Homo sapiens: one gene and its partner. The protein of the gene in region 2 interacts with the protein of the main gene of each other region in a pairwise test. Each region holds a gene or a part of one and is shown on either strand. Other genes may lie near its edges.

Region 1 (3,500 bases), on a different chromosome or scaffold from region 2:
CTTGTGTCAGTGATTACTTATCCATTTTGATCAGTCACATGGCTTGTGCTTTATCATCTCTAAAATTTATATTTTGCTATTCTCCAGTCTTTAAAAAGCTAATTTCCTATGTAAAAAGAAAAATATTTGAAAAGTTTGCTGACAGAATAGAAATTAAAAATTTATTTTAATGTCAAGGTTCCAAAAACCTTGACATTTTGAAGCCATTGAGTTTCAAGATTTTTTTTACTGGTAATATTTTAGAAACAGTATTTGTACTGATTATATATTTTTCCCCCTCTCAGGCTGTTATAGATGCAAATATTTTTCCTGTTTTGATTGAGATTCTTCAGAAAGCAGAGTTTCGTACCAGAAAAGAAGCAGCTTGGGCTATAACTAATGCAACATCAGGAGGTACTCCAGAGCAAATAAGGTATGATATAAACTTCTTAATTGTTTTTTACATGTAAATGAGACAAAAGTTGAAATAAAACATATTTTAATTTACTGATGGAACTAAAATATTATTTCTAAGTCAGTTTGATAATATGAAATGACAGCATGTATTATATCAGTTACTCATTCACAATTTTTTTTTCCCCATTTAACGTGTAATTAACATCATTCTCCTTGATAGGCTGCTTAAGAAAAATCAGAGATTAAAAAATCCAAACGGGAACGGTCTATGTTAATTTGCAGAGTACACTGTCATGGGCATTAAATATTTTTTAATCACAAAAATATAGCTTTATTATATAGAAATGGCTAATAAATTTGAATATCCACTTACTTTAAATAAAATTGAAATAGACATTGTTTATATGGTGATGTTCTGGTCCTCATTGATTGTTAGCCTTGCCTATGGATAGTATCTTTTATTTTTCTATACTAGTTACCTTTTTTTTATATTAGCTTTTTGAGTCTAGGCTTTTTAAATTTATTTATTCTGCTGACAATGTAAATAATAGGTGCATGGGCTTTTAAGTCAGCCTGATTTCAAATCCTGCTCCTTCAGTAAAAGTTGTGTGGTCTTGACAAAGTCATTTAACCCCTCTAATCTAGTTTCTTCATTTTAAAAAATGAGTTCCAGTAATGAATAGTTATGGCAGTGTAAGTCAGCCTTCCATATCCTTGGGTTTTGCATCTGTGGATTCAACCACCTGCAGGTCAAAAATATTAAAAAAGAAAAAGACAGTAAAAAATGCCAGTACAACACTACAAAATAATGCAAATTTAAAAACACAATACAACAATTAGTAACATCATAGCAATTACATTGTTTTAGGTATTATAAGTAATCTAAAGATAATTTCAAATACTTGGAAAGATATGCATAGGTTGTATGCAAATACTATGCCATTTTATATAAAGGAATTGAGCATCTGTGGATTTTGGTATTGAGAGGAAGGGTGTCTTGGAACCAATCTCCGATGAAACCGAGGGACTGTATCTTGATAGTTAAGTGAAATTTATGTCTTTGAAGTGTCAGCACAGTGCCTAAACATATTATTAATAACTAATAGATAATTAAGAATAGCTACTGTTATTATTTGTAATCATCATAATTTTTATTATCAGTATTGATTCCTGAATCTTTTATCATGTACTTTCACTCTTTTTTATCTCCCATAGCAAAGTTTCACTTACACCTCTACTAAAAGCTTCTACAGAATCGTCTTGTTCGGAGGATCCCTCCATGAAACTAGACTTCTTAGAAAATATTTTCTAATGCATATTTGATTTATTTTTCAATTTATAAAACAAGTCAAACTACAGTGCTATTTTATAAATCACATAATTTTGAAATCTACCTATTGTGAAATTGTCGTCTTTTATTGCCTTCATTTGTAGTATTATCTTGCTCTCTCAAATTTGTATAGCTGTATATTGCTAGCATCTGTCTCTGCCTTTTATTTTCTATTCTATCTCTTTGCTTTCATCAGTATTTCCACTTTGTGTCATGGATACAAGCAGTAATAAATGAAGACCCTTCCTTTGTTCTATTTTGTATTTTTTTAATGTTGATGTTACTTTTATTTTATTTGGGCTGCAAGTTTGTTCACCTGCAAATAGTTGTATTTTTTCAATTAATTTTTGTGGTTATATCTATTCTGTATATTATTGCTTTAATTTATTAGTATGGATTAAGTATCCAAACTGAGATAATTATTTTTCTAACCACTTTTATCATTTCATTAAGTTTGCATATTTGGGAAAAGACCTCTTGATCTCAGATTAAGTTATGCATCCATACCACTAGTTGAGTGCCTACTATTGCCAGTTATTGTGCTAAGTAAGTCATTTCAGTTATTGAGCACCAGCAATGTGTCTGGTACTTTCATGTATTTTATCTCCTGTAATCTCTTAACTATGAGGCAGTTATTCATTCAACAGATATTTTTGACCAATTACAGTACAGTATAGGGCAAATGAGTGCTCTGGTGAAGGTATATACATCTTTTTTTTTTAAGAGGGACAGAAACTTTTATTAAATGTCTATTGTGTTCTTACAACTACTCTCTGAAGTTGGTACTATTATTATTCCCATTTTTAAGATGGGGAAACTGAGACACAGAGTAATTGCTCAAGGTCACACAACTAATAAGGGGTGGAATTGGGACTTGAAGGCACACAGCCTGGCTTCATAGTATGTTTTTAACCTTTGTACTTAATATGGACTTTTTGCCAAGTGAACAAATCAGTTACTTCATTTACATTATAGAGTACAGAAAACCAGCCAATAACTAGAAAAGGACATGCATTCAGAAATTAAAGAATTTTTTTGTGAATATTATTTATGAACATTATTCACAAGAGAGCCTGTTTTGTTCCTACAGGCCTTCTATCCTTCTGAAACACAGTATATGTTTCAGAACATTAGCTGTGATTGTTTTTATGGGAAATTTTCTCAAGTTTAATTTAGATGTCTCTTCTTTCTTTCCATTTCTGTCTACCCCCATATGACCTCCGTGTGTGTGTGTGTGTGTGTGTGTGTGTGTGTGTGTGTGTGTCTGTGTGTAGGCTTGCCTTTAAAAAAAAAAAAAAACAACCTTTCGAACCTACGTTTAATGCTCAGATGAGCACCATGAAAAACAGGCCGAAGTACCAGTTTGTGTCTGTATTTTATAGTCTTTGCAAGACCATTTATTGCTAATTATGTTAAATTAGAGAATAGGTGAGTAAAGAAAATTTTAAGTTTCCTATGTGAGAATTTAAATGTGTGTAATGTTTGCATTTGTATAGGAATACTTTTTCTTAATTGCTTATGTAACATTTCACTATGAAAAATATTTTTGTGTCATTGTTACAAACAGTACTTAAGTCTTTTTAAATCTTTTTTTCCCTGTTTCTTCTCTTTTATATTAATCTGAAGGTATTTGGTAGCTTTAGGCTGCATTAAACCACTTTGTGATCTTTTGACTGTTATGGACTCCAAAATAGTCCAAGTGGCTTTAAATGGACTTGAAAATATTTTACGTCTTGGAGAACAAGAATCTAAGCAGAATGGAATAGGCATTAAT
Region 2 (3,500 bases):
CTCCCAAGCTCAAGCTATCCTCCTACCTCAGCCTCCCAAGTGGCTGGGACCACAGGCACGTGCCACCACACCTGGCTAATTTTTGTATTTTTTGTAGAAATGAGGTTTCACCATGTTGCCCAAGCTGGTTTTGAACTCCTAGGCTCAAGCAATCCGCCTGCCTTGGCCTCCCAAGGTACTGGAATTACAGGCATGAGCTACCATGCTTGGTCTCCTATACCCTTATTTAGAAGTTATATCTCATGAGACTACATTGTACTCCTGGTATCCTTCACCATACACTATTATTTATGTACATCTCTCACACATCCATCTCTTTCTCCCTAGGTTCCCTTAAGGGTAGATATAAACCTTTCCATGTGCTTTATTATGTGGGAAGCATTCAAATATCCAAGGGAAGGAACCTATCACAAGAATAGTGATTTACTCAATCTCGAATCCTCATAACTCAAAGTAAAACTGCTCTGATAAATGAAAATAACTTAGACTACTTTAAATAAATTATATCCTAAAATGATAATTTATGAGTTAACATTCTTTTGGTTATATCATCAGATTTATATTTAGAGTTACAGAGAAAATAGCTAAATGAAAGTTCAATTCTTTCATTTTCTCTATATCACAATTTTATATATTATATTAACATGAACATAATCCATATCTAAAATTTTTCATGAGAAAAGTACTCATAGGGCAATTAAATTTAAAAAATTGCATCTTATAATGTAAAATGATTTTTACACTCCAAGACGCTGATAATTTAAAGTCATTTCTACACCAAAATATTAACTATGCCTGTTACTTCTACCAAAAGAAGGAATCACAAGAGATAATGAATGGGACAGAGAACTCACAAGGACTAAAAATAGCAGTAGTTCTTGAAACTAGAACTACTCTTCTTTTTATGGATTGTTTTGTTTTGTTTAGAGATGAGGTCTTGCCACGTTGCCCAGGCTGGCCTCAAAATTCTGGGCTCAAGGCTTTAAGAAAAATTTAGACATTTTTAAAAAACTGCTAAATTGCTAATAGTTATAATATACTGTCACCAACAAATTTTAAGCGTCCTTTGACCATTCCTTAATTAGCAAATCAAATTTCTCCTTAGTAATAAAATGGCATACTATTATTTAAATTTTTAGTTTAATGAAATTACTGTTAAGTTTAAACAATTTCCTTAAAATTATTACTAGCTGTTTTTTGTTTCCTCATCATATTAAACAGCTTAGTTTTCTTACTTTTTAAAATAATTTGGGTGATGTTTTAATCTAACTTGGACATTAATCATTTCTCATGTTTATATTTTCCAAGTCTGTTTGCACTCCTTTCAAATTTTAAGTTTTTATTTAGCCAAATCTGCTCATAATTTCCTTTGTAATTTATTCTATAACTTTTAAGCCTGGGAAAAAAATCTCCTTGCAGAACATTTTGTTTTTCTGTAATTTCATTTTTTTTTTACTACATTCATTCCAGGTGTCATATGAGGAGGCTCTAAACTGATTTTTGTTGTTATTTCATTGTTCAACCAATTCCCCTCTTTTTTTTTTTGAGACAGAGTCTCGCTCTGTTGCCCAGGCTGGAGTGCAGTGGCTCAATCTCATCTCACTGCAAGCTCCGACTCCCGGGTTCACGCCATCGTCCCGCCTCAGCCTCCCGAGTAGCTGGGACTACAGGCACCCACCACACCTGGCTAATTTTTTTTTGTATTTTTTTAGTAGAGACGGGGTTTCACCGTGTTAGCCAGGATGGTCTTGATCTCCTGACCTCGTGATCTGCCCGCCTCGGCCTCCCAAAGTGCTGGGATTACAGGCATGAGCCACTGTGCCTAGCCCAATTCCCCTCTTATTTCTAATATCCTCTTTATTAAATATTACATTCTTCCTTACAGTCTGTTCACAGGCTAATCTGGTATAATAATTAGCTTTGTGTATTACCACATATTTTTAACTATTATAGCTTTTTAATGATTGATTATCTATAAAAGCCAGTACCTACTCATTTACTCTTCTTCAGAATTTCCTTTGGGATCTGGATTGGAAAGAACTTACATATTTGTAATATTTAATTCCTGCCCATGAAAATCACTATGACTCCATACAGTCAAATCTCAATGACAAGTGTTTCTTTTTAAGAATACTGTTATTTCTGAATATTTGATATCTTTTGGATTGCCAATATGAATAGAATGCCTTTTTTCTTATGTTTTCTAAGTAGTGATTACATATAAATATCAAAAACCAAAAGCATTCCTCTGTATCTTTGAACAAGTCTTTTCATTTGAATCTTAAGAACTTTTTAATATTACAATTGATGTGTTGGCTTTTTCTAGGAAATCATTTTTTAATGAACCTAATTTTCTGACTCTAAGTACAAACCTGTATCCATCTCCGTATTTCTCACTGTTTTTTTCTCTTCTGCGCCTTTGTTTCTCTCGCCGAGCCTCAATTCGCCGCTTTTCTTCCTCTTCATTTTTAGGATCAGTTTTTGCTAGGATATTACACAAAAAAGTAAAAGCTAAAATTCATTTTTCCATTCTCTCTTTCCAATCATCAGTTCGTAAAGTACATACTTATGAGGTATACTTAGTGATTGTAATCTAAAATTGAACTCACCAAAAAAATCGGAGTTTGAGACTATCCAGTATTTCTGAAACTTCACTAAATGAACTTCATTCATTTGAATACCATCATCATGAATTCTGTCATATCTGCTTGTCATCTATGTGATTATTTGCTACATATTTTTCTTTAAATGTGCTCATTTGTCCTATCCTTATTCTAAGCAATAATATCCTTATCACCTAAAATCATCTTGGGCATCACATACTTTGGGAAAAACACTAAAGTAACCTGACCGAGCATGAAAATGGAAGTCCAGTAAACACTGCAGAGCCCTGGATGCAAGAACTCATGTTCATATTGTAGGAGCTCTCAGAAAGTTTCTTAAAATTTGTAACCTCCAAAATAAAAGCAAATTTGTTCTCTTTTTTAAAAAATATTCTCTATTGTGATAAAATACACAAAACATAAGATTTACTAGTTTAACCATTTTAAAATGTGCAATTCAATGGCATTAAGTACATTCACAAAGTTACGCAACCATCTCCACTATCTAGTTACAGAACTGTTCATCATCCCATAAAGCAGTCACTCCCCATTTCAACCCTACCCTAAGGCCCTGGTAACCACTAATCTGCTTTCTGATCTACGGATTTGCCTATTCTAAGTATTTCATATACCTAGAATCATCCTGTCTGTTGCCTTTTTGGTCTGACTTTTATTTAGCATGTTTTCACAGTTCACCCATGTTGTACCATGTATTAGTAAGTACTTCCTTTTTTATGGTTTAATAATATTCCATTGTATGAATAACCCACATTTTTTAAACCATTCTTCTGTTGATGTATATTTCAATTGTTTCTACCTTTTGGCAATTATGAATAATGCTACTATAAACATTCATATATAAATTTTTGTTTGGACCAGGCACAGTGGCTCATGCCT

Evidence for each region.
Region 1: the proteins of ZNF326 (region 2) and KPNA5 interact in binary tests that used the Homo sapiens proteins (3 or more experiments, as listed by UniProt).

The regions. Positions count from the first base shown.
Region 1 is NC_000006.12:116,726,211-116,729,710, forward strand, and holds part of KPNA5 (importin subunit alpha-6), read left to right. Parts: intron 1-284; coding exon 285-412; intron 413-3,352; coding exon 3,353-3,500. UniProt on the Homo sapiens protein: Functions in nuclear protein import as an adapter protein for nuclear receptor KPNB1. Binds specifically and directly to substrates containing either a simple or bipartite NLS motif.
Region 2 is NC_000001.11:90,012,110-90,015,609, reverse strand, and holds part of ZNF326 (DBIRD complex subunit ZNF326), read right to left. Parts: intron 2,485-3,500; coding exon 2,373-2,484; intron 1-2,372. UniProt on the Homo sapiens protein: Core component of the DBIRD complex, a multiprotein complex that acts at the interface between core mRNP particles and RNA polymerase II (RNAPII) and integrates transcript elongation with the regulation of alternative splicing: the DBIRD complex affects local transcript elongation rates and alternative splicing of a large set of exons embedded in (A + T)-rich DNA regions.